2 linked regions of the Homo sapiens genome follow. The protein of the gene in region 1 purifies or fractionates together with the protein of each later gene. This does not show direct contact. Each region holds a gene or a part of one and is shown on either strand. Other genes may lie near its edges.

Region 1 (5,434 bases):
AGGACCCCACTGACACAGATGCAAATAGGCTGCCCTTCTGAGAGGAACTCCATCAACTGCTCAGCCCCCTCCCTCCAGAACATGGCACAGGAAGCTTCTGCAAATGCTGATGTTTAATGACCTATTCTACTTGAGGAACCTGGACAGTGAGGATTTTCTAAAATGCCAAGTCATAAAACCTCAGACACTTGCAAAATAAGAGAACAAATATGCACGGAGCTGCTCAGCCACTGATATGTCAACTCCTGGGAACAGCTGGTGTCCACGGGGGAGGGGGCAGCATGTGGCCAGGCATGTGAGTGGCTTCCACTCAGGAGAGCCCCTCTGAGCAGGTCTTGTTCAGGAGTTCAAAATATGTCTTCCAGGGCATGGTTTCAACAGTGAAGAAGCAGCTGAAGGTCCGAGGGAACAAACAGGAAGAGACAGTAGGGCGGGGTTTGGGGAGGTTCGGGAATCTTGTGGCATCTGCCCTCAACACAGGTTCCATCTCCACCTTGCCCATTCCTGGGGCCAGCAATTGTGCCACGTGGCTCTGGCCTTCAGGTCTAGCCTGAGCCTGAGGCCAATCCTGAACTACAACGTGATTTGAGGCTCCCTCCCTCCTTAGCCAGGGTCACTTGTGCCATGCCTCCTCCTCCAGCCCGTGCCCCTCAGGGGAACCCCAGGCTGTCCTGGTGTGATCCCTGCATCCAAGAGCAGCAGGAGAATGTTTTGTCCCAGTGGAAGCAGTTCCCAGACTTAGGCAATTAGTTACCTATTTGTTAATCTTACAATAAGGGGGTTGACTAAGAATGGGAAGTTTTCCCAGAGCCAGGCTTTGCTTGGAGCTCGTCCCCTAGAGCAGGTGCTGCAGCTCAGCAGGGCCTAGGAGCGAGGGCAGTGGGGCTTCTTCTCAGCCTCCACCACTTTTGGGTCTAGGGCAGGGTAGGGAAACCCTGAGAAAAGTACCCACAGACATTGTCACCATTGTCTCCAGGCTCTTTCTCTAGAAGGCAGGGAAGAAGTGGGGAGGAAGACCAGAGAGAAGGTTCTGAAGGCCATGTGGCCCAGGTGCAGGCAGCTGCAATGGTGTCAGAGGGCAGAATCAGGAAACTCAGATTGGCCAGGGGCCTGAAAGTGAACCCCTGGGCTTAATGCCTCACTGGGCTTCCCACTAAGGCACAAGCAGGGCAGCCTGGTACAGCCTGCTGTGGGCTCACTTCCCTTTGTCCCTCGGAATGGCTTTGTCAGCTGCTCCTGTGCCCACACCACACCCCATGCAGCATCCACAGCTGTGGACCTGAGGAAAGCTGATGCCCTGTCTTACGTTGTTCAGCTCCAGGCTTTCTTGAAAAGGGCAGTTGTCAATGTCATCTTCAAATTTCCTACATACGGTTTGGCGCAGTTGCAGATTCATGGAGAACACCATCTTACCTCGCCACTGTTGGACAAAAGAAGATTAAAGTGGATGCACCGTCTTCCTGCCCCTAAGTAGCTACTAGTGAAGATGCCATTTGAGTAGGAGAGGCCCCAACACTTTACTGCATTTGAGAGCTTGCCCATGGGCCTGGCATCAGCTCACTGGAGGTGAAACCCAGGGGATCTTCTCTAGACTGAGGAGTTAAGAGCAAAAAGCAGGTGGGCATGGTGGGTCTGGGGAGGATGCAGGCTGAGTCAGACCCCACTAACACATTATCCACCTCCACCCACCCCCATTTCCCACGGTGAGACTCCAGCTTCACTCTCAGTAGGCATCTGATCTTGCAGCTGCATTCCCAGAGGACAGAGCCACATGTCCGGGAGGGTGTTGGATCTCCAAGAGTTTTCAGGGTAACTTCAGCCCTGGGACAGAGGGAGCCTCATCTACAGTGTGTTGTCAAACCTTCCAAGTGACCTCCAGCAAGAAGAATGACACACAGCGCTCCCACTACACACAGGCACACACCCTGGGAAAATGGGTTCAAGAAATACCATCTGCCCTATTGCAAAGTGCATGCTGAAGTTCTCCTTGCCCTCCTTCCCACTCCATTCTATTTAATTCCACTCCATAGCCTCCCTCTCACCCATCTATTCTTCCCAGCCCCCAAACTGATGCTGGGATTGCCATATCCAGGAAGCCATGTGGAAAGCTTTTAGGACTTACTGTCATTTAGGACTTATAGACCATAGTAAGGAGCTTAGATTTTATTCTAACGGTATTAAGAATGGAGGCTTACACTGAGGTCTTGGAGAATCAAGCAAAGCACTGGGAAAGCAGAAGCATGAGGCCTGGCCAATCTCAATCTCTGAGACTTCCAAGGTTCCAGCATGAATATTAGCAGCCACCATTACTGGACCAGATGCCCCTCTGAGGGTTGCATCAGGCTTTTAATTCTCCTGAGAGGAGGCAGCAAATGAGCAAGGAGGAAAATTCCTCTGTACCAGCATTGGAATCCTGAGGATGGCAGTGAGGAATCCACCCCAGGAGGCAGAGAACCAGCCAGAGCCTTGCACAGAGTCTTTCCAGAGCTTAAGCTCTGTGCGGTACTAGAGTCCCTCTGCCTTTCTTTCAGGCTCTTGGTGCTGAGAAAGGAAGAGCAATGCTCCTTCTCTCTCTAAACCAGAAGTTCTCCACTAGGAGGGCATTTTAATTGTTCATGCCTGAAGCCCAGATGAACTGTGCATTCCTGACCACATTTAATGATTTCATCAAAAAGGCAAGCATTTTAGGATAAAGGTCCATTGAGGAAGAGTGTAAATTGGCCTTCAGTTCATTAAGTGCAGACAGAGCAAGGAGCCCAGAGAAGGTGGAGATCAGAGAACTAACCTTTCACGGTGGCCTCTCAGGGCTGATGGTGTTCTTTATTGCCCTCGAATTCTCACTGTTCTCTCTCTGTCTGCCTGTCTCTCTCTCTCTCTGTCTCTCTCTCTCTGTCTGTCTGTCTCTCTCTGTCTCTCTCTCTCTCTCCCTCTGTGTGTCCTTGCTTTTCCATTTTCATTTTATGACCTGGAAATGTTTATCAGTCTCTTTGGTTATTTTCTCTTCTTGTCAGCTTCATCTCCTTAGAAGTCCTTATTTTGAAGTCACTCTTCAGTTATACAATGTCTTAAAAATCATGAAGATTGAAAAATATATTTTGCATGTGAATAGACATTTACCTAATTTAAAAAAAATTTTAAGTTCAATGTTTTCCAAAACTAAAACTACCGTAATTGGTTGTGGACTACCTGACTATGGACTGCTGATGGTGAACCAAGTCTCCTAGACTAGACATCTTGGTCCCTCACTTAGGGGCAGATGGAGAAGGACAGGCCAGAAGAGGATGTGGTCACCAACCTTTCTGTCCATGCTATCCTCCCTCCATGAACTCAGGACGCGCAACAGCCTGTAGGCATGCTCCTCCTTGCTCTGCACGTTGAAAGTGTTCAAGGCAAACTCCACTGTGGCGAGGAACATAGGATCCTGGACTATTTTATTATTACCACCCATTTCCTCTTCAGAACACCAGGCATAAGTCACCAGGAGCTGGAAGCCCATGAGAAGCAGTGACAGTGCCCAGGGCATAGCCTTCCTCCTCTGCGGACTCGACATGATGCAGGCTCCAGCAGCCCTTGCCTTTGCCCTTCAGATCCCTGGCGTCCACTGGAGCCTTCCAGGGCTCAGGTCTGGCCTTTAAATTCACCTGCTGGGGCAGAAACTCCTCCCTCCAGGCCTCACCTCTGCAGTTACACCCTGTCTCTCCCACACATGGCCTCCCTTCTTCCAAAGGCGTTTAAATCATCTCCTGTTTAGGGGAGAGGAACAGCACCCAGGCAGGTGGGTTGGAAAAGACTAGCAATGGGAGAGATAGTGCCCTGAACATGAGGCCCAGCCCCAGCTGCCCCAGCACCTCCGCAGGCTAAAGGAGACCTCTACTGGGCGCCCCAGAGTCAGAGCCCGGCACAGGAACACAAGTGTGAGAGGTATGAGTGGAAGGTGAGCCCTGGACTCAGCAGTGGGGGTGGGCTGGGAGGGGGAGGTTAGGTGGAAAGGCAGAGACAAAAGGATGGAAAGGGATGACAGTGGATGCTAGTATCATGGGTGAGCAGGTACAGCGCCCCGAGAAAGCACTGGGCCTCTTGAGAGAGAGGCGGGGAGCCCGGGAGGATTGGCGGGATGTCCTGCAGGTGTCTGCTCCCCCGAGGGTCTCGGGAGGGGGGCACCAGCCTGGGGGTCGTGGGCAGAGGTTGAGGAAATCAAGAGCAGGAGCCCCCAACCCTGTTCTCTGCACCTCCCTAAATGCAGCTTCCCAGCCCAGGGACGCGCTGCCAAGTGCTGGTACTAGGGGCCTGGCTAGTTATGGCTGCCCCTATTCCTCAAAGGTGTTTCCAGGACGGGTGGCCGCTTGCAATTGGAGCAGTGGAGAACCAGAAAGACGAAGATGCCCTCAGGGATGGCTGAAGTGCACCCATTAGGTTGTCACGGGTTCCCTCCTGTGGCCACAGCCGGCACAGCACTCTGCGGCACAGTTTGTGGGTGGAGATTCTGAGTTCTCGACCAAGACCCACATAGCCTCCAACTCCAACCGCAAATGGGGCTCTCAAAAGACTGAATAATGCACTCTTCACAGACCAGACTTAAGCTTTGTCCCTGTGAAATATGCCTTTGATGTTTATCCGTAGCTCCTTGTAAACTTCAGAAGCAACCAGCATCCCCTGATGTCACGTTAAAAAGCAAGTTCCTAGTTTCCCCACCCAAAGATTCTGACCCAGTAGCTGTGAGCAGGGCCAGGGAAACTACATTTCTCACCAGCTTCCAGAGGATGGTTGTGTTCCCGGTCTCAGAACCATACTTTGAGTGGTGCAGGTTCAGAATACTTCCTGGGAAGTGCATACAGACCAAACCACATATGAGAAGTAACTCAGCTTGAGGGGCATGGAGGTCAGGGGATGAGAATGGCTTTTGTGGGGCACACAGGATGGGGGACAGGCTTAGACAGCATGCCTGGTGATAAAGAATAAGAGTTTGTTTCTAGACCCTGTTTGCAAAGAAAAAGCAACTCAATGTGACAATTCCAGGAAAGCAGCCAGATGTGCCAAAAACATCACCCAAGGAGTCTGTATCCTTTCTCTGATGGCGTTGAGTTCACTGGAACTGCAGCTGAAGCGTAACTAATGTGGTTTCTTAGCTGGAGAGTGATGGTGCACGTAGGGGTAGGAAGGGGGTGTCAGTGAGGGCGGAAATGCCTTTGTGGGTTTTGGGATGAGCAGGCCATAAGGTGCTGTGAGAACTAGAATCCTGATGCCTGGAATAGGTTGCGAGTGTCCTGAGAGAGGCCTGCAATGCCCATGGAGGTCACTCTCACCTTGTAAGTTCAGCGGCTGACAAACTTGGGGCATCCTGCCAATTGCCAGTGGCTCCCCCACCATTCTGAGGGCCGATACCCACATGTGCTCCAAGGGAGTGCCCACACTCACTCTTACATGAGCAGTGGTT
Region 2 (4,709 bases), on another chromosome or scaffold:
TAATTATAGACACCCTTGAAATGTGTTTTCCTATAATTTTAATGTAGCAGTTAAGAGGGTAATCTTACATGCGCAACATTCTCATCCTTGTTTAGTTCAATTACTCTTGGATTTGGCTCTGGAAAACCTGTTGCTCTTATTTCAAACTTGAGTGCTGAAGTCTCATCCTGTTTAATAAAAGAAGGATCACCATAGCCTGGTTTATTTCATAAAGACATAATTTATCAGGATCTTTACCTTCTAGCTAGAGGTTTTCACAATTTACCTTCCCCAATTTATTTCACCACTTAAAATTAACTGCAGTGCCTCCTTTGGTTCCCAAAGTGTGGTCTTGGTATTAATTTATATAGTATCATTTTATTGAAATCCTTTGATTAAACAGCTACCTTGCAAATAACTTGATTTAAATATTAGACTACAGAAAGAGGTAAGTTACCATTTACCATTGTTCTCCACCCCACCACCGCATATTGAATCTATCTTATTTGGGCTTTTTATTTCTTTCTAAATTAAATACATTATAGAATTCAAATATAAAATCAGTGGATGAACTCAGAACTTTACTATCTAAAGCAAGGATTTTATAACGCAGAATCCATGAAGCTTGGGGATCTGTAGAAGGGCTTTATAAATTCTAAGAATCTTTAGGAGATGTTTTCATGTGTGCATTTGCTGAGGGAGATGAGAATATATTTAGTCAGATTCTTAAAGAGGGATATGACCTTTAAAACTATTGTGTAAATGTTATTTAACATTTTAGAGCCAAAAATGACAAGCTTCCTATAGATCTAGAGCAGTGGTTCTCAGCAGGGAGGGTTTTATCACCTAAGGGACAGTCAGGAATGTCTAAAGAAACTGTCAAGTGTCAGAACGTGGGAGGTGGTACTACCAGCAGTGAGCGTATAGAGGCTGAGGATGATACTAAATATCCTACAATGCACAGGACAACCCCCCAAAACAAAATTATCTGGTTCAAAATGCCAATTATGGCCACTGATGGAAAACCTAGACCTAGAGAAAAAGATAAGGCAAACTGCAAAAGGTTAAATGACTTGCTGATGGTTCAATGACTTTGCTTTTAGCACAGTTGAAACTAAAATGGATATTTCTTCTTTGCCTGTCTAGTGTATCTTCCTCTTAAGCACTGTTTGGCAATTTCAAGAATTCCACTTGAACATAACAGCTGCCATTTCCTTTGGCTTCCTATGTTCCATGAACTAAGTGCTTATAAAAATCATCTCATTTATCCATATTGAACAGATGAGAAAGCTGAAAAACAGAACTCCACATAAAACTAGTTTCATCTCAAACTACTCCTCATAAATATACATGCTCCTTTGTAGGAAAAAGTCCAAGATATATTTCATTATTTTTAAAATTTAAATATGTTTTTGTTGTTGAATTTTGATTTTATTTGATTTTATGAAAGCCTTAGTTTTTCTTCTTAGCTATATTTTTAAAATAAAAGGGCTTCAATAAAATTCATCATCCCTTCATGCTAAAAACTCTCAATAAACTAGGTGTTGATGGAACATATCTCAATAAGAGCTATTTATGACAAACCCATAGCCAATATCATACTGAATGGGCAAAAACTGGAAGCATTCCCTTTGAAAACCGTCACAAGACAAGGATGCCCTCTCTCACCACTCCTATTCAACACAGTATTGGAAGTTCTGGCCAGGGCAATCAGGCAAGAGAAAGCAACAAAGGGTATTCAAATAGGAAGAGAGGAAGTCAAATTGTTTGCAGGTGACATGATTGTATATTTAGAAAACTCCATGGTCTCAGCCCCAAAACTCCTTAAGCTTATAAGCAACTTCAGCAAAGTCTCAGGATACAAAAATCAATGTGCAAAAGTCACAAGCATTCGTATACAATAATAGACAAGCAGAGAGCCAAATCATGAGTGAATTCCCATTCACTACAAACAGAATAAAATACCTAGGAATCCAACTTACAAGGGATGTGAAGGACCTCTTCAAGGAGCACTACAAACCACTGCTCAAGGAAATAAGAGGACACAAACAAATGGAAAAAAATATTCTATGCTCATGGATAGGAAGAATCAATATCGTGAAAATGGCCATACTGCCCAAAGTAATTTACAGATTCAAGGCTACTCCCATCAAGCTACCATTGACTTTCTTCACAGAATTAGAAAAAACTACTTTAAATTTCCTATGGAACCATAAAAGAGCCCATATAGTCAAGACAATCCTAAGCAAAAAGAAAGCTGGAGGCATCAGGCTACCCGACTTCAAACTGTACTACAAGGCTAACCAAAACAGATACAGAGGCCAATGGAACAGAACAGAGACCTCAGAAATAACACCAGACATCTACCTAGGAATACAACTGGTCTCGAACTCCTGGCCTCAAGTGATCCTCCTGCCTTGGCCTCCCAAAGTGCTGGGATTACAGGCATGAGCCACTGTGCCTGGCCTATTTTAGCCTTTATTACCTGTTAATTTCTAAAGCCATTTCACTTAGTCAATGTAGATAGTTGAAGTGATAGAAATACAGTTTTAGAGTTTTACTCCAAAATTTTATTTAAAATTTAATTTGTTGAATGCCTTCATACTATCCTGCCTATATGACTGAATTTATAGATTTTATGTAAACTTAGCCACCAAGTTGTCAATGTTTTAGACTTACTTACCATTTCTAAAATGGATGGCCGGCCTTCCAGTTGGATATGAACACTGGCTTCTTTTCCACTTTCCATTTTCCCAAAATTACACAAGAAATTTAAACAATGTGGATCAGCTTTTATGCAGTACTTGAAGGGAATATAAAAGTGCTACATTAAAATTTTCAACATTGGAAAATATTTTTAAAATATTTTATATAGAATTTAATATATACTCTAATGGCATTTTGAAAATCATCTTTCCATAAATATGAAATTAAACATCTGCTTTCCTTAGTGGCATTTAAATTACCTTTAAACAAGACATGAATGTTTGTTTTCTAAATTATAATAAAGTATTTAAACTGCAGCATATGTTCTTATTATTTGTATTAACATAATCTTCTGGGACAGAATTTTTAAAAAATGTTCCTAATCAGAGTCTTGCTAAGTTACGTATTCTTTGTTTGTTGTAAAACGTGGATCATTTCAAGGTGATGAATGCTTCTCCAGTTTCTTTTCATACATTCACTAAGCTGAAAAGAATGAAAATTAACCCATGCCACAAAGGCTGCCCAGGTGAAGACAACCTCTTGGTGTCCTGAAGGGTCTGGAACAATGTCTTGTTGGCAAATAGTGGGCATTTGTTAGATAAAAAAATGAAACTGTATAACATTTTTTTTTTTCTTTTTGAGATGGAGTCTTGCTCTGTCACCCAGGCTGGAGTGCAGTGGCGTGATCTCGGCTCACTGCAACCTCCACCTCCCGGATTCAAGCAATTCTCCTGCCTCAGCCTCCTGAGTAGCTGGGATTACAGGCACCTGTCTAATTTTTGTATTTTTAGTAGAGACGGGGTTTCACTCTGTTGGCCAGGCTGGTCTCGAACTCCTGACCTTGTGATCTGCCCACCTCGGCCTCCCAAAGTGCTGGGATTACAGGCGTGAGCCATCACACCCGGCCAACATGTTTATATATGGGATAGACCCTGGGTCTATCTCAACTTTCCAACCATGCTTGTTCCTTCCACGCAAGAATACTACCTAAACTTGTCTTCTCTCTTATTATTGAAGTGACAGCTCAAACCCATTGACTTGATTTTAAGTGTCTCACTTCTCTGTTGGAAAGCAGGAACTACAACCTGAAAAACTGAAACTTACCAATAGCCTCTTATCAGTCTTGGACAAGAACCGGACTATGCCTTTCAAGGTCTGCATTGCACTCTTTTGCTGCTCTAATGCACACACTCTTTGATAATTTTCAAAGTGGCATTCTCCAGTAGTAGTCTATGAAGACAGAAAGCAAGAGAAATCTTATCTTTCAACACTGGAAAAAACAGCAAAAAGCAACCTGGTTTTAAAAGTTCCAGTAGCTTATCTTTGCTAAAATATATCAAGTACCTCTGAAATTGTAGAAATTTTTTTGACAGATTTGGGAGTGATTAAATGTCTGTGGCAGAAACACAAAAACCCAGCCAAATTACAGCAGGTTGGATATAGGTTCTAAGCTGATAAAATGGCCTTAACCTTGCAGAAATGTGAAAAATGATATTGGAACATTAGCATGACATTAAATATTTCTTTGCCTTTATAGGCGAAACAATATAACACCATATTCTTCTCTCTAAATCTGGAATTTAAATAGGATTTTTAAAAATCAGACCTCAAACCTATTTAGTAGATTTGTTGACTTTTGTCTTCAACCTGTTAAGCTCAAAACAATTCTGATGGAACCATCAGTGCAAGAATATCGGTTCTTAAGAAGTGGTTTGAATAGTGCTTCCTTAAAAAAAGGCTATAATCCTCATATTTGCACAGTAGTTTCAAGTTTTATGAAGAATTCTACTAATAGAAGTTACCTCTATAGGTCCATATCACACAACAATGTATCTTAAAATAATTATTCAATGGAGATGGTAGAATATAGTTCTGTTATTTAAATCAAATGTAAAAGTTGCACTGTAACTCTATAGTTCTAAAGAAATGTATAATATTCAAAGCATAACTCAATAAATGCATGGTGAATTCATAGCTTAGAGTGTGACTGAAGTAAGTTAACAATTATCCATTTTCACATCATT

Evidence for each region. Proteins that work in one complex are often made in the same cells at the same time.
Region 2: the proteins of CST9 (region 1) and ITGA4 purify together in Homo sapiens (affinity purification with mass spectrometry; 3 studies listed by BioGRID and IntAct, with this or other methods). This does not show direct contact.

The regions. Positions count from the first base shown.
Region 1 is NC_000020.11:23,602,315-23,607,748, forward strand, and holds CST9 (cystatin-9 precursor), read right to left. Parts: upstream 3,604-5,434; 5' UTR 3,551-3,603; coding exon 3,296-3,550; intron 1,421-3,295; coding exon 1,196-1,420; 3' UTR 96-1,195; downstream 1-95. UniProt on the Homo sapiens protein: May be involved in testis development. May play a role in hematopoietic differentiation or inflammation. Has immunomodulatory and antimicrobial functions against Francisella tularensis, a Gram-negative bacteria.
Region 2 is NC_000002.12:181,529,730-181,534,438, reverse strand, and holds part of ITGA4 (integrin alpha-4 isoform 1 preproprotein), read right to left. Parts: intron 3,916-4,709; coding exon 3,790-3,915; intron 2,783-3,789; coding exon 2,663-2,782; intron 168-2,662; coding exon 69-167; intron 1-68. UniProt on the Homo sapiens protein: Integrins alpha-4/beta-1 (VLA-4) and alpha-4/beta-7 are receptors for fibronectin. They recognize one or more domains within the alternatively spliced CS-1 and CS-5 regions of fibronectin. They are also receptors for VCAM1.